Regions from separate parts of the Homo sapiens genome. Here region 2 is reported to be linked to region 1. The links are microRNA targets in miRTarBase. Many come from high-throughput screens and were not tested one by one. Region 1 holds a microRNA gene; the other region holds the end of a gene's coding sequence.
What was found. The annotated mature microRNA hsa-miR-4430 reads AGGCUGGAGUGAGCGGAG and lies in region 1 at 2,014-2,031, shown strand. An mRNA with a match to its seed (bases 2 to 7 or 8) in the 3' UTR can be bound and repressed. Matches are read on the target gene's strand: a 7mer-m8 pairs with bases 2 to 8, a 7mer-A1 pairs with bases 2 to 7 and ends in A, and an 8mer does both.

Region 2: the mRNA of THAP2 is a reported target of hsa-miR-4430. Seed matches in the 3' UTR shown: 7mer-m8 at 2,147-2,153 and 7mer-A1 at 831-837.

What each region holds. Positions count from the first base shown.
Region 1 is chr2:33,416,506-33,420,572 of GRCh38, forward strand. It overlaps MIR4430 (microRNA 4430), which reads left to right and starts at 2,011; the gene lies at 2,011-2,059.
Region 2 is chr12:71,676,348-71,680,414 of GRCh38, reverse strand. It overlaps THAP2 (THAP domain containing 2), which reads right to left. Exons shown (of 3, transcript NM_031435.4): 3 at 1-3,726. The coding sequence ends at 3,307. The region is part of intron 1 of LOC124902965 (a long non-coding RNA gene); the gene reads left to right. Among named protein-coding and RNA genes, the nearest start is that of TMEM19, 7.7 kb to the left of the region's middle.

The sequences.
Region 1 (4,067 bases):
TATCCCTTCCACACTTTTTTTGAGACAGAATCTCACTTTGACACCCAGGCTGGAGTGCAGTGTCACGACAATAGCGCACTGCAGCCTTGACCTCCTGCGTTCTGGTGATCCTCCCACCTCAGCCTCCCGAGCAGCTAGGCCTACAGGTACACGCCACCATGACCGGCTGATTTATTTTTATTTTTATTTTTAGTACAGGCAAGTTCTCGCTATGTTCCCCAGGCTAGTCTTGAACTCCTGGGCTCAAGCGATCTGTCCATCTTGGCCTCCCAAAGTCCCGAGATTTCAGGAATAAGTCACTGTGCCTGGCCCCTTCCATACTTTTTTCTCCACAGGATATCTTGAAATCACTGGGACTTGGGCACTGTCATTATAGCAGTTAGCATACCCTGACTGAGAGAACATCAAGAACAAGCTTGAAAAGTTTGGGGTCCTGTTCAGCCACATCTCCCCATTCTGCACTTCTACAAGTGGCTTTTTGAACCTCAGTACAAAATTTTACCTTTGCTCCTATTAATTTCTCTTCTGTTGTTGGTCCCTTTCTTTAGCCTTATGTTAAGATGTTTTGAGATTCTGATTCTGACTTCCAGTATGGTTGCTGTCTCTTCCAAGTTGACATACACTCTCCATCTTTATTCAAGATATTAATGTAACTATTAAGAAGGATATCTCTTTAAGACAAAAAAAAAGTGCAATACAAAAAAACAACTTCCTTTTGCTGAGTTGCTGAGCCCCTTGTGAGGCTGACAATGGCAGGATGGTTTAGTCTGTCGTCTCCAGAGGGTTTCCTGCCAGGGGACTTCTGGATTTCAGGATCGGCCAACATGAGTCAAACAGCTCTTGGAGCTCTTTATTCTCAAACCTTCTCTGCAAATCAGAGCTGGAGATTTCAGGATTCCCTCCCCACATTCCTCATGACCAGTACCGCTCCCTATTTTCTCAATTTTTCATGAGTCCCTTCAAAGAGAAATAATTTAAATAAAAAGTCTTTCCCAGATTTACCTTTTGCTGATTTTCCATTTTTCCCAACTAGGCAACAAGACTTCATTTTGTTCACTGATGTGTCACACAGAGTATTTCAAATAGTTTGAAGCCAGAAGAAGCAAAAAGGGAAGATGCTAAGAGGTCACCAGGGCCGGGCGTGGTGGCTCATGCCTGTAATCCCAGCACTTTGGGAGGCCGAGGCGGGCGGATCACTTGAGGTCAGGAGTTCAAGACCAGCCTGGCCAACATGGTGAAACCCTGTCTCTACTAAAAATACAAAAATTAGCCGGGTGTGGTGGTGGGCGCCTGCAATCCCAGCTACTCAGGAGGCTGAGGCAGGAGAATCGCTTGAACCTAGGAGGCAGAGGTTGCAGTGAGCCGAGATCACACCACTGCACTCCAGCCTGAGCGACAGAGTGAGACTCCATCTCAAAAAAAAAGAAAAAAGAAAAGGCAACCAGGTTTCTGTTTTGGGGGGCTACATTGAAGAAATCCAGTGTTTCCTACCTGCTTTCCATGGTGGCGGCGGGGGGGAAATCTGAATGAAAAAAGAGATTAGATCCATCCTTGAGCATGGTGGGTTTGAGGTGCCTGGAAACATCTACACAGAGATGCTGAAAGTCCATGAAACTGACTAGTCTGAAGCTGAGAAGGCGGACTGGCTTAGTGCTCTGCAATGTGCAGATAGAATATCTATGGATACTGAGTCAGGGCTCTCACAGTGTTGGTCTCAAGGCAATCCTGGTCCTTAGAATAGACATGGAAAAAGGCACAAGGCAGAAAAGGCCCTCTTTCTTTCCATGTCTATCTCCCTCTATGATCATAGACAACATGCGTTAAAAATCATATTATAAGCTGCTCTTAGAACTTGATCGCTTCAGCTCACAAGTTCAAGGCAAGTCTCGGCAACATAGCAAGACCCCATCTGTACGAAACATTTTAAAAATTAGCCAAGCATGGTGGCATGTGACTGTCATCCCAGTTACCCGGGAGGCTGAGGTGGAAGGATCACCTAAGCCCAGGAGGGTGAGGCTGGAGTGAGCGGAGATCGTACCACTGCACTCCAACCTGGTGACAAAGGGAGACCTTGTCTCAAAAAAACAAAACGACTCCCACCTCCAATAAAAAACCCTCATCAACCCCAAATCTAGACAAGTAATGTCCACTTTTGCCTGAGATTTTTTTTTTTTTTTTTTTTTGAGGCAGAATCTCGCTTTGTCGCCCAGGCTTGAGTGCGGTGGCACGATCTCGGCTCACTGCAACCTCCACCTCCCAGGTTCAAGTGATTCTCCTGCCTCAGCCTCCCGAGTAGCTGGGACTACAGGCGCATGCCACCATGCCTGGCTAATTTTTTGTATTTTTAGTAGAGACAGAGTTTTACCATGTTAGCCAGGATGGTCTCAACCTCCTGACCTCACGATCTGCCCACCTTGGCCTCCCAAAGTGCTGGGATTACAGGCGTGAGCCACCGCGCCTGGCCTTGCCTGAGGTTTTTAAATCAGCTTTACCCATCCTACTGACTGGGGGAGGGTAGCGGGTAGGTGGATGGGTTGATAATTTCCACCTCCATAGCAATCACCCTAAGCCTTCTATCTTGTTCCAGTCCTACTCTTATTTTGCTTATGTCTCTGCCCACCTTCAACCTCCTAACTTTGTGGTCACTCTTTCAAATTCTGTCTGTGGTCTTTGCATTTGGTATTTGAACTTGATCTCCCTGCTATTTGAACCTTCAGTTACCCCCAACCTCAGTTACCATCATAGATTTTTCTTTGGAAGAAATACCTTTTATTAGTCAGGATCCATTCAGCAGACAGAAGCCACACCAGGTAAAGGAAAAGGAAAATTTTAATATGAAGAATTGCAACTAGGTAAAAAGCCATTAGCTAGGTAACTGAGAAGGGAAAAAAGATCTCTAAAGTATCACAGAGGTAAGTGGCAACTGCAGTCATCAGCTACCACCCTTTCAACTGAGGGAAAAGAGGGAAGAGATTGGAATTATTAAACTTGGAAACGTAGAGTAGGAGTCTTGGAGACTCAAATTTTCTGAGGAGTTGGTACTGGCTGGCTGGGGTTAATGTCTCTGAGTGGGTACAAAGGAGCGTGTTTTATAAATGGGACAAAATTGAAAAGCAGATTCAGCTGCTGCTGTGAGAAGGCCGTGCCTCTGCCCATTTGAAGAAGCTTTGCTCAGGTGACATCACAGGAATAAGAAGTAGACAGGAGGCAGCAAATTCTCTCTTCTTCCTCCAGCCTTGCAGGCTCCCTCTACCACCCCCTAAAGAGCCTGAAAGGTATCTGGCTGGAAAAATAGAAATGTCGTTTGCAGTTTCTGTCCCAGCAACCCAAAGCGAGGTATAGAAGTGTATTTGAATTTGAAAGATAATAATGCTGTAAGGTCACTGTTTCTGACCTTAGCCAGCTCCCACTCCTCCCCAGCTAATTACTTCCCACTCCTGCCTCCAGTAGAGAATGACATATTTACCATTCATTTCCCACTGTGTTCTCCAAGTCTCTGCCCTTGCCCTGGCAATTGTAAGCAAATTGTTACTATCACTTTCCTTTCCTGATTCCACATTACTGCATGAGTAAGTTACAGTGCTCTTCAAGCAGGAGTCCACCTTGCTCTTTCAGCATGGTGAAGACAGATGATCTGCCTTACAAGCAGCTGCAGATCTTTTCCTTACCTCGAATCCTTTCTTCAGAGAAATTTGGAGGTAATTCCGAGTTTCTCTTGGGCTCCCTTCAGCAGCTTCATTTACTCAGGCTGTGGTCTTGTTATTTAATGTTGCATAGCAAATCACCCTAAATTGTAAAGGCTTGAAACGAGAACAAGCAGTTGTTGTCTTTTATGGTTTCAAGGCATCGGAAATTAGGAAGCAGGTTGGCTGAGCTGGGTTGAGGTCTCTCATGAGGCTGTAGTCACGTGGTGGATGAGGCTGGGGTCATCTTGAAAGCTCTGGCACCTGGGCCGGGAAGACTCAAGAAGCTGGGGATAGGAACAACTGGGGCTCCTTAGGTATCTGTCTACTTATTTAGACTCTCCAAGTGGTCCTTTTCAGAGTATCTTGATTTGTACATGGAAG
Region 2 (4,067 bases), not on the chromosome of region 1:
AGTCTACTTAGAGAAGATCAAGTGACCTCAAAGACTTTACTATTTTCATATTTTAAGACACATGATTTATCCTATTTTAGTAACCTGGTTCATACGTTAAACAAAGGATAATGTGAACAGCAGAGAGGATTTGTTGGCAGAAAATCTATGTTCAATCTAGAACTATCTAGATCACAGACATTTCTATTCCTTTTGCAAGTTGGCACACAGTAAATGCCCGAATGAATAAATAAATTGCATTAACAAGGATGTCTTCATGTGTAAATCAGAGATAATACCACCTACCACACAGAATGTAAGGGAAAAGAGAACAAATAAGTACCAAAGTGCTTTATACGATTCTGAGTTATTTTAAAAATCTGTGTTAATAGGTTTGTTATTTTACACAAAATATCAAATTTCAAATGAACTCCAGTGCTGGATTTCGATGTAGTATTTTATTTATAGCTATGTTTTCCTTTTAACAAAGATACCATTAACACATTTGTTCAGTGTTCATTTTAAAGGGTAAAAATGTTGTCTTATAGCTCATTCAATAAAACACCATAATTCAGGTCAAATGCCAATGTCCTTGTACCTCCTTTGCTAAGTCAATATAAGGAGGAATCTGTTTTGTTTCAAGACAAAAGCATTTGATTATAAAAAGGTCTACAGTTTATAGTTCTTACTGAATTCCAATTCAACAGCATTTACCAAAGGACTTTACAGCTATTTCTTTTGTAGCATTTATCATATTGTATTATAAATATTACTTGTTTCTTTCAGGAGATAGAGCAACTTGAGGGCAGAAAATAATGTAATATTCCTTTTTATATCAAGTACCTAGCCTTTGGCTGGTTCTTTGTAGAGGTTGGTGCCCAGTAGACAGAGAACAAATGAACAGAAGATCTGTGTTGTGACCGGGAGAGGAAAAAAAATCCATTATAATTTCAGTTAGTTTATGGTCAGAGTGATTAAAAAAAAAACTATCAAACTGAAAGCAGCATTTTAATAGACTCCTTTTAGGTTTTTCTCTGTGAATAAAGCTAGTTTTAAGGTAGACAAATGTATGTTAATAAAACAATTTGATGCAAAGAGTTTGGAGCATGTTGTCAGGACAGCACAATGAAAATCACGGAGAAAACACAGAAAAGTTTACTCTAAAATTATTGAGTAGTAGTTTAATACTGTCAGGTAATAATGAATGAAGATGAAGTAACCTTGTCCAAAATTTGTTGTATTTTACAATATTTTATTTTTATGATTTTTAAAATTTATTAAGGTTTCAAGGTATTACTGTAGATGGGAACTGGGCTACACAAATAAGTGTTTTGTATCTGGGGTGAAGGGTGAACCACATGACAGTGGTTATACTTGGAAAAAATAGTTTTTATTAAAATGATTATTTGTCCAACTTATTTTGAGTTATAAAATAGATATGGTCAGTGAATGTTTGATGATGATTATATGTTGGCAAAAAGTTATTTGAAACCATACTAGAAAAAAATAAATATGTAATGACAATTCCAAGGAACTACATCTAATACTTAAGATAAAGATAAAATAACTAGCAAGATTTATAACATTCACAAAAAGATTTTCATAAATATCTGTTTTAAATACCTCATGGGCATTCTAAGAGACTTTTCCTACCTTTGCATTTCCTTGGGAGGCATTCCTTAGTAAAGAGAGTGCTAATACTGTAAAAGAATTGTTACTAGGAGCCAAGCAAATGCAATCCTAAATAGCAAAAAAATGAAATTTTTAAAAAAATCATGAAGTAGCTATTACTTTACAGGAAAGATTACAGCAATTTATGACTTGGTTTATGCTACCTTTGTATGTTAGTATCACAAGCTTGAATTAAATAAGTTGAGTTAAATAACTTGATTCTCTATTAACAAATTTTTACATGATTTCAACAAAGCTGTTTGAAGCAAAGGGTTCCTATTAAACATTAGTGAAATAAAGCAAACCCTTTAATTGTTCAAGTGGCAATGATAAGAATAGTTCTGAACTTTTATTTTATAAAATAATTAGCATTTGCATACCACTATCACAGACATACACATATTTCTATAGGGAACATTTAATTTCCCTTATGCACTATGGTTGCTTTATTTTTGTTGTTGCTGTTTTAGAGACAGGAGTCTCACTCCATTGCCCAGGCTGGAGTGCAGTCGTGCAATCACAGCTCACTATAGCCTCAACCTCCTAGGTTCAATTGATCTTCCCACCTTAGCCTCCCAAGTAGCTGGGAACACAGGCATGCTAGTTGCTCTATTTCACTCACTAAAAAAGGAGATAAAAAGCAAGCTGATGTCTAAGATAAACTGATGCCATTTTAAGTTATCAATACAAAGTGTGAAGATATAAGTAGTTTCCTGTGATTAAATTTTACTGTGGGTTTATGAAGAGGAAAAAAAAAGCCCACTATATTGATACACTATTTCTGAGGTATAGTATGCATTTGGAAAGTAGTTAAAAAGAAAACAAAAAACCTTAGGAGTTTTGGTTATCAACAAATATGGAAGCACCAATTTTGAAGTTGGAAATGTAAGATTTTTATTATGAGAAAAAGAGTAGTATACATTTATCTAAGCTAGGTCCTGAACTCTGAATTATTTTACAACACTTACTTAGGTGAATATTATCAGCTACTAGATTTTACTAGTTTAAAGTACTTGAGGCCTTACCTAGTTTGGATGACTCAATGGTACTTCACATTCAAATATTTTCAAAATATTTTACAACCTATTTTAAAATCATTCTTATGAGAGAGGCCATGATAAGCTCACTTTTACTGGTAAAACAAAATATAGAAAGTTTTAATTTAAAAACTTGCCCTGTACCTTTTTTTCTATAAATTTTTCAAATCACAGTGCCAATTATAATTTAATTAATACAAAACCCAGCAGTTTTAAGGTCATGTTGAATGTTGGTTAACTCTTATTTAGCATCTTATTTAGAATGCAATATGCCAACTTTGGTACAGGAAAAAATTCTTCTCTAAGTTAAACATATTACTTATCATAAGCTGTTCTTTTAACAGTAGTTTAAAAAGACAAAAACAAAAAACACCTTTCAAACACACAATTTATTAGCAAAATTTTTAAGTCCGTAATTCTAATGTAAGGCACTTCCACTCATTTTCAAATAAAATTTCCATATGAAGTTTTTTATTCTTTTGTAATCAAGTCTTCACAAATTCAGTAATGTTACTTCAAGTAAAACTTTATTAAATAATGAATTTTGGCATAAGTGCCATAATTATCTTTACTTCTGAAAAGAATGAAGGATAGGCATCAAGCTCTGTGCAAGCTAAATTTAAATGAAGGTACTCTTGGTCTGTTTTAGATTTAGACTTAGCAGTGTTTTATCTTGTTGATCTTGTTCAAGGATCTTAAAATCTTCCAAAGGAAGACTGCTTAAGGCAGTTGGTAACATGTGTTCTGATGTACCTTTAGGTAATACACTATTTGCTTCTAAATTCTTTACCAAACACGTGGCTTTGATCCATCTTCGAGTTGCTCTGCGTTCCTTTTGTAGGCAAGTTTTCATTTTTCTTCTTAAGCTTGCTATTTCTTTTTCCAGTTTAATGATCCTCTTTTTTGCCTCCATAGGATTCCTAAAGGCATAGCTGTGTTCAAGTAGTACTTGCTGACTACTAATGTTTGATTTTAAATTAGATGGTCCAGCTGGAGAACAACTGTTGTTTTTCTTCAAAAGATTCCTTGACTTGAGTTTCTGAGCCGAATAAAATTAGAGGGTTGAACATAAATTATGAAATATCACAAATAAGCACATAGTGTCCAGTTTTGGATAACAGTATTTAAACTGCTCTTTTAAAAGTCAATTTTAAAACTTTAATAGGAAACAGCAGCAGCCATCTCATGTAATCCAAGATTAAGTTTTTTAACTGGTTGAATTAACTCTAGTCACCTATTTCTTTTTGTCCCATATCCAGAGAGATTCAAACACTGATTTGGAAATAGACAATGGACGTCCAAGGTTTCTTCCAAATTATTGACTATGACTCTATAGAGACTTTAAAGATCCTTTGCAATTTACTAAGGTCAATTTACAAT